Regions from separate parts of the Homo sapiens genome. Here region 2 is linked to region 1. Evidence: fine-mapped expression QTL. A gene starts in region 1. The other region holds a variant in brackets. All regions are shown on one strand. Distances are between the middles of the regions. Region 1 holds the start of GLYATL2 (glycine-N-acyltransferase like 2). Region 2 has its middle 35 kb from the start of GLYATL2.

Evidence for each region. PIP is the estimated chance that this variant, and not a neighbour inherited with it, causes the effect.
Region 2: its variant is fine-mapped to the expression of GLYATL2 in whole blood (TOPMed, PIP above 0.99). The same link has a PIP of 0.9 or more in blood mononuclear cells.

What each region holds. Positions count from the first base shown.
Region 1 is chr11:58,841,635-58,847,026 of GRCh38, forward strand. It overlaps GLYATL2 (glycine-N-acyltransferase like 2), which reads right to left and starts at 3,070. Exons shown (of 6, transcript NM_145016.4): 1 at 2,800-3,070.
Region 2 is chr11:58,807,301-58,812,692 of GRCh38, forward strand. No RefSeq gene overlaps it. Among named protein-coding and RNA genes, the nearest start is that of GLYATL2, 35 kb to the right of the region's middle. The variant C/G (reference allele first, on the strand shown) is at 3,129.

The sequences.
Region 1 (5,392 bases):
TAGATATTTTGAGGCAAACCACAGATCTAGAAAAAGCTAATGTGTTTCTGTCACTGTCTAGGATGATGGGTGCACTAACCAAATGGCACAGCATTCTGCCCATTCTGCAGGCTTTGGTAGCATATTCCACAAAGGAGAGCAATCAACTTCAAGGAAAGAGCGACCAAAGCAGTCAAAGGCTGCTGAGAAGCTAAAAGATATGAGTACTAAAGATGGCAGTGCATTTTGGAGTTAGGAGTTGATTACTGACTTGGTAAGAGATGTGGAATGAAACGTGAGGAAGTGAAGGTAACTTTTTCAAAGAGCTTGACCAGGAAAGGAAGAAGAACATGAGAATATCGAAGGACAGAGGAGAGGTACAAGAGCTCAAAAAAGGCATTTCTCTTATTAGATGAGAGTTAAGCATACCTATACTAACTACAAGAGGTAAGATGTAAGTCATTAATAGGCCAATGTGTAAACAGGACATAGAAAGGTGACAGAAATTCATTGACCTTATATACAAAATGCCAACCCTATTTCAGCTTCTTTATGTTGATTAATTCATGTAATCGTCAATGATAATTCTCAGCATACTTGTGAAATTAAGTTTTGGACTGGAAGAATACTTCTTTCAGTGAAAAGTCAGAAAAAAAATTAGGATGGATGCAGATGCAGGTGTATGTATGTACGTATACAGCAGGTCATCAAATAATGTCATTTTGTTCAATATCTTTTCATTACAATGGTGAAGAGAAAAACATCAATTCCTGGCTGGACTACTGTCTATGTGCAGTTTGCCTGTTCTCCTCATGTCTGCATGGATTTTCTCTGTCTAAATTGTCCCAGGATGAGTGAGACTCTGTGTGTGTGTGTGTGTGTGTGTGTGTGTGTGTGTGTGTGTGTGCGCCCTGTGATGGAAAGGTGTCCAGTCTGGGGTGGGTTCCTGCCTTGTGCTCTGAGCTACCAGGACAGGCTTCAGTCACTTGCTCCCCTGAACTGGAAAAAGCCAGTTGAAAAATGAATGAATGAATGAATGAATGAATGAAACATTCATAATAAAACAAAAATTCATGAAGTCTATGATAATCATACAAATGAATGACAATAAACAATGCTGTGCCAAAGGACTCAGTGAGGCCACCATATTTGTGATTGAATTTTAACTTCATAGAGGCAAGAGGTGCTCCTTACAACTTTTGCTTTGCAAACATTTATTTCTCAATTTAACCCACCACTACTGTGACCACCATCACACAGACTCACCAAAAATTAGGTAAATAATTATCTTGTTTTTATTAATATTTATTAAATGTATACGCAGTTTCCATTTAGTTCATTGTTTTATATTAGAAGTGTTTGGGTTCTTTATTTATAAGTTTGGTGATGTTTTTGTGACCAGAAATATGCTGTAGGAACTTAACTCTTCTTTATACTAATTAGCTTATGGTAAAATTAATTTTGTTATATGTTGTTTCATTTGAAATTGCAGTTTCCAAGAACCTATTGACAATGTTAAGTGAGGACTAATTTTATATGGGAGTACACAGGGTTAGAAAAAAAGAGCAGAGAGTTGGCAAGTTATTTTTGAATGTCTGTTTCCTGGAAGAGGTAAAATTTTTTCCTATTTCCAAAATCACTTTTTAGCAGTAAGTGGGTGAGGGAGTATGCCAAGAAAGTGTCGAGAAAAAGAAGTAGGATTTTATGGGAAACAGTTAGGGTTTAAATGGCTTTTGATGTTAATGGGAGAAAGAGTGGACTAGAATTAGCAAGGACTAGCAAGCATGCTTAGGATAATGTAAAGATGGACACTATGATTTGGAAGTGTTACTCAACAATATATTGAGCTCAGCTCCCTGAGAGTAGAAGCAGAGAAGACAAATTAAAACAAACCAAGGTTGGTTTTTTCAGGGCTGGTGTAGCAAAAAAGATAAGGTACAAAGCATTTGAATATATAGAAATGAGAGATTGAAACTTACAAACTGTAGCATCCAGGAGAGAGAAGAGAAAAAGTAAAGTAGGTTGGAGACCAATAAAGTAAGAAAATATAGAAAAAGCCATGGAAGAAAGTACTTGATGAAGTCAAAGAATAGCAATGTTAATAGACAGGGAAAAATGTACTTAAAAATAGGAGATTGGGATCAGATATTAGACTATTAGAGGTTAAGATGTCAGAGGCACTCAGAGGTAGATCAGTTTGGGATGTAGGGCTGTTGGCTTCAACTCCAAGTCAACAGAGTAGGAGCCAAGAAGGGAATGGGAGTTTCAGGTACCACAGACATGAATAGGATGTAGCAGAAGTTTGTTGGAGAGAAACATTAGGATACCAGTTGCCAAATGTTTCAATGAATGGAGAGAAATTTGGCAGAGGGCAACAGAAAAGCATTGTTTTATTCTAGCCACATGACACAGAAGGAAGAAGGAAGATTTTTCTATGCAAATAAACCACTAATACTTTAGAAGCAGGATTGGAGGCAAGGAGAATATTGATTTTTTTTTTCTGCTAACAGTATTACTATGGAGATCTAGAGGGTGTCAGAGAAAGGTACAAGCATATTGATAACTTATAATTCAAGGAAAGCATTTGGACATTTTACAAATTCAAAAGGATACGCACTGGCTTTTTCTGAAGTATTTCCAGTTTCAGGTACCTAAAAGGTTTTGAAGAATTCATTCTCAACATTGAGACCCTGGGGAGTGCTCTTTCCAAGGGTTTGCAGGGGAAAAGAAATAAATTAACAAATACAAATGATTTAGAACAAGAATCCAAATTAATTGAACTGCCAAGATAAAAAGGCTGTTCTAAATAATTCTGCTTACCTGAAGTTTCTTTGTAGACCTGTAGGCACACTGCCTGCTGCAGTTTCTCAGTATGGCAATGGAAAGGTTTCTGTAGCTAATACTCTACGGACTGAAACACAATAAAATTCAACTGACTCACGTTGTCACTGTTAAGCATAAAGCTTCAGGAAGTTATGGGTTCCTGTAGATTAAACCAGACGTTCTGTCCATAGACAAGAAATCACAGGCTTTGTAGACCAGAGGAGGACTGAGAATATGTTCCATATTGAGCAGCTTCTACAATTCTAAGAAGTTTTACTCAAGAAGCTTTTGATTTATATATAACCTCTTGTAGCTGAAAGGCTATTCTAGAACAATATTAAGTCAATTTTCCATTGTTGGCAAAAATAGCACAGCTGCAGCCTTATTTAAATGATGTCAGTAGAGCAAACAAAGAGTTGGAAAGTTTGATTTCAATGCAAAATACTTGGCTTAATACTTTCAACCATTTGTGGCTTGGAAAAAGCCAAAAATGCCTCAAGGAAGTTACTGTAATAATGAGAACTCAGTTTCATATACCTTGTCCTCTGGTTGTCTAAAGTGGAGCAACAGGGAGGGGCATTGTAAGTTTAAGAAGAAAAATCAATTACTGGAGAAAAGTTTCAGGGGGACTGGAATTAGCTTTGTAGTGGAATAGAGACAAACATTGTTTTTCAAAGTGTGTTCCTCACACCACCTCCTTCAAGATCAATTAGGCTTGTTTGTTAACAATACAAGAACTTTTCCAGATCAGGTAAATCAGAGGCTCCCAGAGTGCCTGGCAATCTGTATGTTATAAAAAGCTATCTAAAAGAATCTGATCAACATTACATTTTGAAGACATTGAGATTAAAACATGGGAAAATATAAGTTATAAAATTTTTATACTGGGTGCAGTGGCTCACATCGGTAATACCAACTACTTGGGAAGCTCAGGCAGGAGGGTCGCTTGAGGGCAAAAACTTGATACAAGCCAGGGCGACCTAATAAAACCCCAGTCTTTAAAATTTTGGTTTTTAATTAGCCAGATGTAGTGGCATGTGTCTATAGTCCCAACTACTCAGCAGACTGAGATGGAAAGATTACGTGAGCCCAGAAACTTGAGATCGCAGTAAGCTATTTCACCACTGCACTTCAGCCTGGGGAACAGGGTGAGATACTATCTCTAATTAAAAAAAAATTCACCCACTTTCTGGAAGTGAAAGAAACTTCACAAATTGTAATCATTTATAGCATGAGAAAAGCAAGAGTTATTTTTACACAAATAAGGAAGCTGTTGCTGAGAAAAAAATAAATGTCTTCCCCCAGGTCACAAAACTAACCAGTGGCAATGTCTGGAACATGAGGCCAAATATCGAATTATTTTAATGACACTATGATTCCATAGAGAGTGATTCTCTACCCTTAGGCAGTTTATATCTTCTTACAAACCTAAATCATCTACTCCAGATGACATATAAAAATTATCAGTGATAATTTAATACTATCTACACATTCTTGCTATGTAAGGCATTGAGTTTTATAGTTTTAGTTACTCTACTTTTTGAACCAAAAGTGGTTCACATAATCTATCAAAGAATTTTACATATTCATAATTGTAAACGATTATTTTGTTAAATACATATCAAAGTTTATAGAGTTATACAGTAAACTAATCATCCTTTTTAAAAAATGGTCCATTTCAACTAGTCAATACATATGTTTTATTCCATAATTGACAGCAAACTGTGGATAGTTGAGAGAACACATATTTTTTTTCTATACTGAGTATTACTTAAGTAATTTCTTGAGCCATTAAATTTTTTTTATATAGTTTATAATGGGGAGGAGAAGCAAAGCAAGTGGCAGAATAGAAGGCTCCACTAATCATTTCCCCATACCCCACAAGGCACCAACTTAACAACTACACAGAAAAAAATACCTTCATGAGAGCCAAAAATCAAGTGAGCACTCATAGTACCTGGTTTTGACTTCATATCCCTGAAAGAGGCACTGAAGAGACAGTAAAAAACAGTCTTGAATCACCAATCCCCATCCCTCCCAACCTCAGTAGCAGTAGTGTGGTGCACAGTATATCTCTGGGCACGGGGGTAGAAAGAACACAGCAATTATGAGGCATTGAACTCATTGCTGTCATGTTAGACACAAAGGAAAACTAGACCAAACTCAGCTGACACCTGCCCATGGAGGCAGAGGGAGCATTTAAACCAGTCCTAACCCGAGGGGAATCACCAATCCCAGCAGTCAAAACTTCAGTGACTGAAAACCTCACCACAGAGGGCCTAAAGTTCTCTGTGTTTCCAAGTAAACGTGAAAGGCAGTGTAAACCATAAGGACTGCAACTCTTAAGTGAGTCCTAGTGCTGAATTAGGCTCAGAAATTGTGGACTGGGGGGACACTTGACATACTGAGACACCAGCTGGGTCAGTCAAAGGAGAGCTGGTATCACCTCTTCCCTAACCCCAGGCTGCATAGCTCACAGCTGCTAAAGAGACTCCTTCCCTCTGCTTGAGGAATGAAAAAGAAACAGTAAGGCGAACTTCATCTTGCATCTTGGATATCAGCTCAGCCACAACAGGATAAGGCACCAAAT
Region 2 (5,392 bases), 34 kb before region 1:
CCTCCATCTCAGTCTCAGCATTTGTTCAAATTTTTGTGGATTGTGAGTAGATTGCCATGTGCTATATGGCAATCCAATCACAATCTCTGTGTGTGTGCTTGTGTTTCTGTCTATCTCTCTCTCACACACACACACACACACATACACACACACACACACACACAGATTATAGGAACTGGCTCACAGTATTATGGAAACTGAGAAGTTTCATAATATGCTATTTGCAAGTTGGAGGAAAAGCCAGTGGTGTAACTCCGCCCAAGTCCGAAGGCCTGAGAACCAGAGAAGCCAATGGTGTAATTCTCTGTCTGACTCCAAAGGCCTGAGAACCAGGAGTTCCAATGCCCAAGGGCAGGAGAAGAGAAATGTTCCAGCTCAAGTAGAGAGAATTCACTCTGCCTCTGCCTCTTTGATCATTTCTGTCCTAAATGGATTGAATGATACCCACCTACATCAGTGAGGATGACTCTTCTTTATTCAGTCTACTGATTCCAAAGCTGATCTCTTCTGGAAACATGCTTATGGACACACCCAGAAATAATCTTTACCAGCTCTCTGGGCATACCTTAGCCCAGTCAAGTTGATGCATAAAGTTAACCATCACAGAAGGCTTGGTACCAGTTGATGACCCTGAGAAAATCAAGGATTTTCTGGAGTTTTTGAGATGTCCTGGTGAATATATCATAAATGGGGTATAGTGGTCCAAGTTGTCTATCATCTCCTGTATGGAATGGGCAAAGAGTAAGGAGATGTAATTGTTGCTTCTCTCTCACTCCTACATCTATACATCCAAGTCTGTTCTTGTCTTTTTCAGCCACACAGCTAAGATTTCAAGCAAAATCAACATAAAGAGATTATAGAGAATGAACTTTGTCTAAGAAGACAACACTTCTACTCCCAAGTCTCAGATCCTAAAACACTACCTGTTGCATTGTAGGTGTGCAACATATATTTGTTAAATAAATTTAAAATATTTACACTAATAATAACTGCCATTTACTAGGTGCATGTTAAGTACTTGGCAATGTACTGAGCAACTTATAGACCAAATTACATCCCAAGGAGTAAAATTCTCATTTCACATTTGAAAAACTTGAGAAACAGAAATGACAAAAGACTATCCAAAGCCCACACAGCTTGCAAGTGTACTTGAGCCCCCACTCACTCTGACTTAAATAACTTGTCTCAATACTCCTGTGTCCACCTAGGCTACAGGAGACATCTCCTTCTTCATCTCTGAAATGAAATTTTTTTCCACTTTTTTCACAATAATCATACCTTCAGAGCTCTCTCTCTCTCTCTCCTTGCTTTGTTTCTTCAACTCCCAAATATTCCTGTCTCAGGCAATATATTATTCCAATCTTACACCTCTACACAGAAATACCTGAGACTGGGTAATTTATAAGGAAAAGTGATTTAATTGGCTCACTATTCCACAGGCTGTACAGAAAGCATGATTCCGGCATTGACTTGGCTTCTGTTGAGGCCTCATGAAACTTAGAATCATGGTGAAAGTCAAAGGGAAAGCAAACCACTCACATGGCCAGAGCAGGAAGAAGGCAGAAAGGGGGAATGTGGCACACACTTTTAAACAACTGGATCTCATGAGGTCTCACTCACTATCATAAGAACAGCACCAATGGGGAAATCCACTCCCATGATCTGATCACCTCCCACCAGGCTCCACCTCCAACATTGGAGATTACATTTTGACATGAGATTTAGGCAGGGACACAGATCCAAACCATATCAGGCAACAACAGCAAAAGTCTTTCCTTAATTTTTTGCCCTTTTTATATCCTTTCAAAGCCAAAAAGACAAAGGTCTTGAGTGTTCTAACACACTCTCTCCCCAGTGCCCCACAATTTGGTTTCTGTACTTTTAATTTTGCTGAAATTTAGTTTTGGGGTATTAATCACCAAAACTTTTTCTTAAGTTCATTTTGATATTTTGCCAAATGATCTGTGAAACACTTGGCCAAATTTCCCTTAGTAGCCCATTAATTTATTCTATATTTAATAATTTTTCCCCTTCTCTTTGAAAAAAAGGAAATAAATTATCACTATCATATTCCATTCTCAAGTAAGTCAGATGGTATTATCTGTGAACCTTCTGTGAAGTAAATACACAGAGACACATAGCAGGTCTCCTAAAGTGTTTGTAGAAATTGATGGGTGAGTTTTAATTGCACCAATGCAAGATTGACTCTCAGTCATTCACAAGTAAGACCAAAGAAGAAATGGCAGATACCTTCAGCAGCCATTGGAAACATCTCAAATATCTCCCAGGCAGCAAACAGAGGTTGACAGCTTTAGGGTTCTAGGTTTGCAAGAAAATTGTTTTACAGTCCATATGAAGGGTCTAAGATACATCCATCCATCCTCAACCCTCCCTCTTCACCTACCTCACATCCAGGGACTCAGGAGTCTTGTCAAGGACTGGTGTGATTTTAGTAGAACCCTAGAGTCATGCAAAAGGTGCATTTTTTATGACAATTCGGTAGTTTTGTACCTTATTTTTAAAGAAATTGTATTGAGTTTATAATTATGTGTATCTATGGTATAAAATGCAATGTTATAATATAATATAGCATTATATATGTTATAATGGTCTTTTTGGCATTGAAAGGATATAAAATGTGGATGGATTTAATCAAGCTAGTTAACATATCAATCACCATACATACTTATTTTTGTGGTAAAAACATTTGAAATTTACTCCCTTAGCAATTCTGAAATATACAATAAATTATTAACAATAGTTGCTAGGATGTAAAATGGATGTCAATGACTTGTTTTTTTCTGCTGCACTGAAACTTTATCTTCTCTTACCAATATCTCCCCACTCTGCTGTCCCTACCTGCAGCCTCTGGTAGCCACCATTCTACCCCCTACATCTAATAACTTTAACATTTCACCTGCAAGTGAGGACCTGAAGCATTTGTCTTTCTGAGCCTGGCTTATTGTACTTAACTTCATGTCCTCCAGGTTAATCCACGTTGTCTCAAATGACAGCATTTCCTTCTTTTTAAGGCTATATGGTATTCCACGGTGTACTATATGTGTACAAAACATACCACATTTTCTTTATACATCATCCATTGATGGGTACTTAGTTTGATTCCACAT[C/G]TTTGCTATTTTGAATAATGCTGTAATGATCATGGGAGTACAGATAACTCTTTAACATACTAATTACATTTCCTTTGGGTATATAACCAGTAATGGTATTCTATATTAAATTATTACATCTGTTTATATCACCAGTCTCCCTTATGAGATCATCAGCTGTTGGACTGTTCTGTTCATCTTTGCATCCCCAAGATCAATCATAGTATCTGGCATTAGCCAGAATTTGGGACTTATTTATTGAATGAGAAGAAATATGGATGAGTAAATTACTTAACTGAGGAGACCCTATGCTTCTGTAACCTGAGATGGTCAAGATTCCAGCACCCATCATGGTAATAAAGAAAAATATCTTTGGCCCCTCAAATCATTAAGCAAAAGGGAAAAGTCAAGCTGGGAACTGCTTAGAGCAAACCTGCCTCCCATTCTATTCAAAGCCACCCCTCTGGTCACTGAGATAAATGCATATCTGATTGCCTCCTTTGGAGAGACTCATCAGAAACTCAAAAGAATGCAACCATTTGTCTCATATACCTGTGACTTGGAAGTTCTCTCCCAACTTTGAGTTGTCCCACCTTTCCAGACATAATCAATGTTTATTTTACATATGTTGATTAATGTCTCATGTCTCCCTAAAATGTATAAAATTAAGCTATGCTCTGACCACTTTGGGCACATGTTGTCAGGTCCTTCTGAAGCTGTGTTACACATGTGCATCCTTGGCAAAATAAAATTTCTAAATTAACTGAGACCTGTCTCAAATTTTCAGGGTTCACATTTTGGTAACTATGAAGGGATTCTGAGTGGAGGTGTCGCTGAACTTTGAGAAATCTCCTCTCAGTGCCAGATACCAGCATGAGCTAACTTTATGACTCAAACCAACAGAACAATTTGCTGAGGTCTGAGAGAACCCCCTTCAGAGAATCCTTAATCTCCTCAAATTTTGTTTAGATCTAAAGTTTATTTTGCCGTACAACTCCCTCTTTTATTGGAGTTTTACTTGATTCCAACAAGAAAGACAAGTTTTTCTACTTCCATGATGATGGAAGGTGGGTAACTCTTTTGTGGAGTTTGAGCTCACTTCTGACAAGGAAGATGAGGTTTTTTTTTTCTGCTTCTAGGATGGTAGACAGCTGTCTTCAGCCTGAGACTCATCCTTAGGTAAGTAGCTAAATTGAGGTTTTGTCTTGGCTAAAGTTAACAACAAGCTGGTCTTAATTTCTCCTTATCATTAGAGCGCTCAGTAGTCATATAAGTTGTGCAATCATTTGTTTGGCTTAACTTTTTGTTGTCGTTGTTGTTGTTTGTTTCTGCTCTTGTCGTTGTTCCAGTCTTTTTCCCATTAAGTTTGATTGACTCTATCTGACTTGATCAAATCTGAAGGAAATTCCAACTTATGGGGAATAAGTCCTCTGAAGTGGCTAAATTCCCCTAAAAAAAGAGGTGTGTGTGTGTGCATATGTGTATGTTTGTATTTAAAAGGCCTTCAAGTTTTTATTTTTGTTTTTCTTCTAGGAACTTGTCTTTTTTTCAGTACAAGTTTTTTTCTTCTCAGTTGACTGAATTCTGTTTTCTTCACTTACTTTGGCTGTCTCTCTTTTCTCTGGCACCCTCTGCTGCATGGGGGACCTCAAATAGTTTATAATATCCTGGGGTTTCTTAAAGAAAATGAAGAAGGTACCAGACTCCCTTTAGGGGAGAAACCTGTTTTTTTGTATGTAACCCCAAGAAAGTAAACAGAAAAGTTTGTCTCAGATGTTGAACTGCCTACTTTTGTATTGTGTTACCTTTATTTTGGACAAAAATAGTTATCGCAACAGAGGTTACTATTGGGTTTTTAAGGAAGAGTGTGATCTAGAAATTTAGAAATGTCTTTGTAAAAAAGAAATTTAAGTGCATCATAAAAGCATCACATGGTATAATCTCATAATAATTTTCCTTTTTTGGAGACCCAGGATTCAATATGGGCTCTGCCCAGAGCTCAGAGGTGCATTTAATAGATAGGTAGTCCCTACCTAAATAAAACTGGTCTCCTTATACAATCCTATGATAGATTTATATAATTTTATGTTTGATTTGGCATCCATCTTTAATCTCCCTTAAACACTACCAAACGTTTCCTCTGTGTACCCTATGATGTAAATTTTGCTATTTCATTTTCACCTGAGTTGTTTCCTTTAATATGCAATTTTAAGGCTATTTAGCTGAAAACTGCCTAGGGTTGTGAAACAGGTTAAGAATCTGAAAGTCTAAGATAGGAAAAAAAG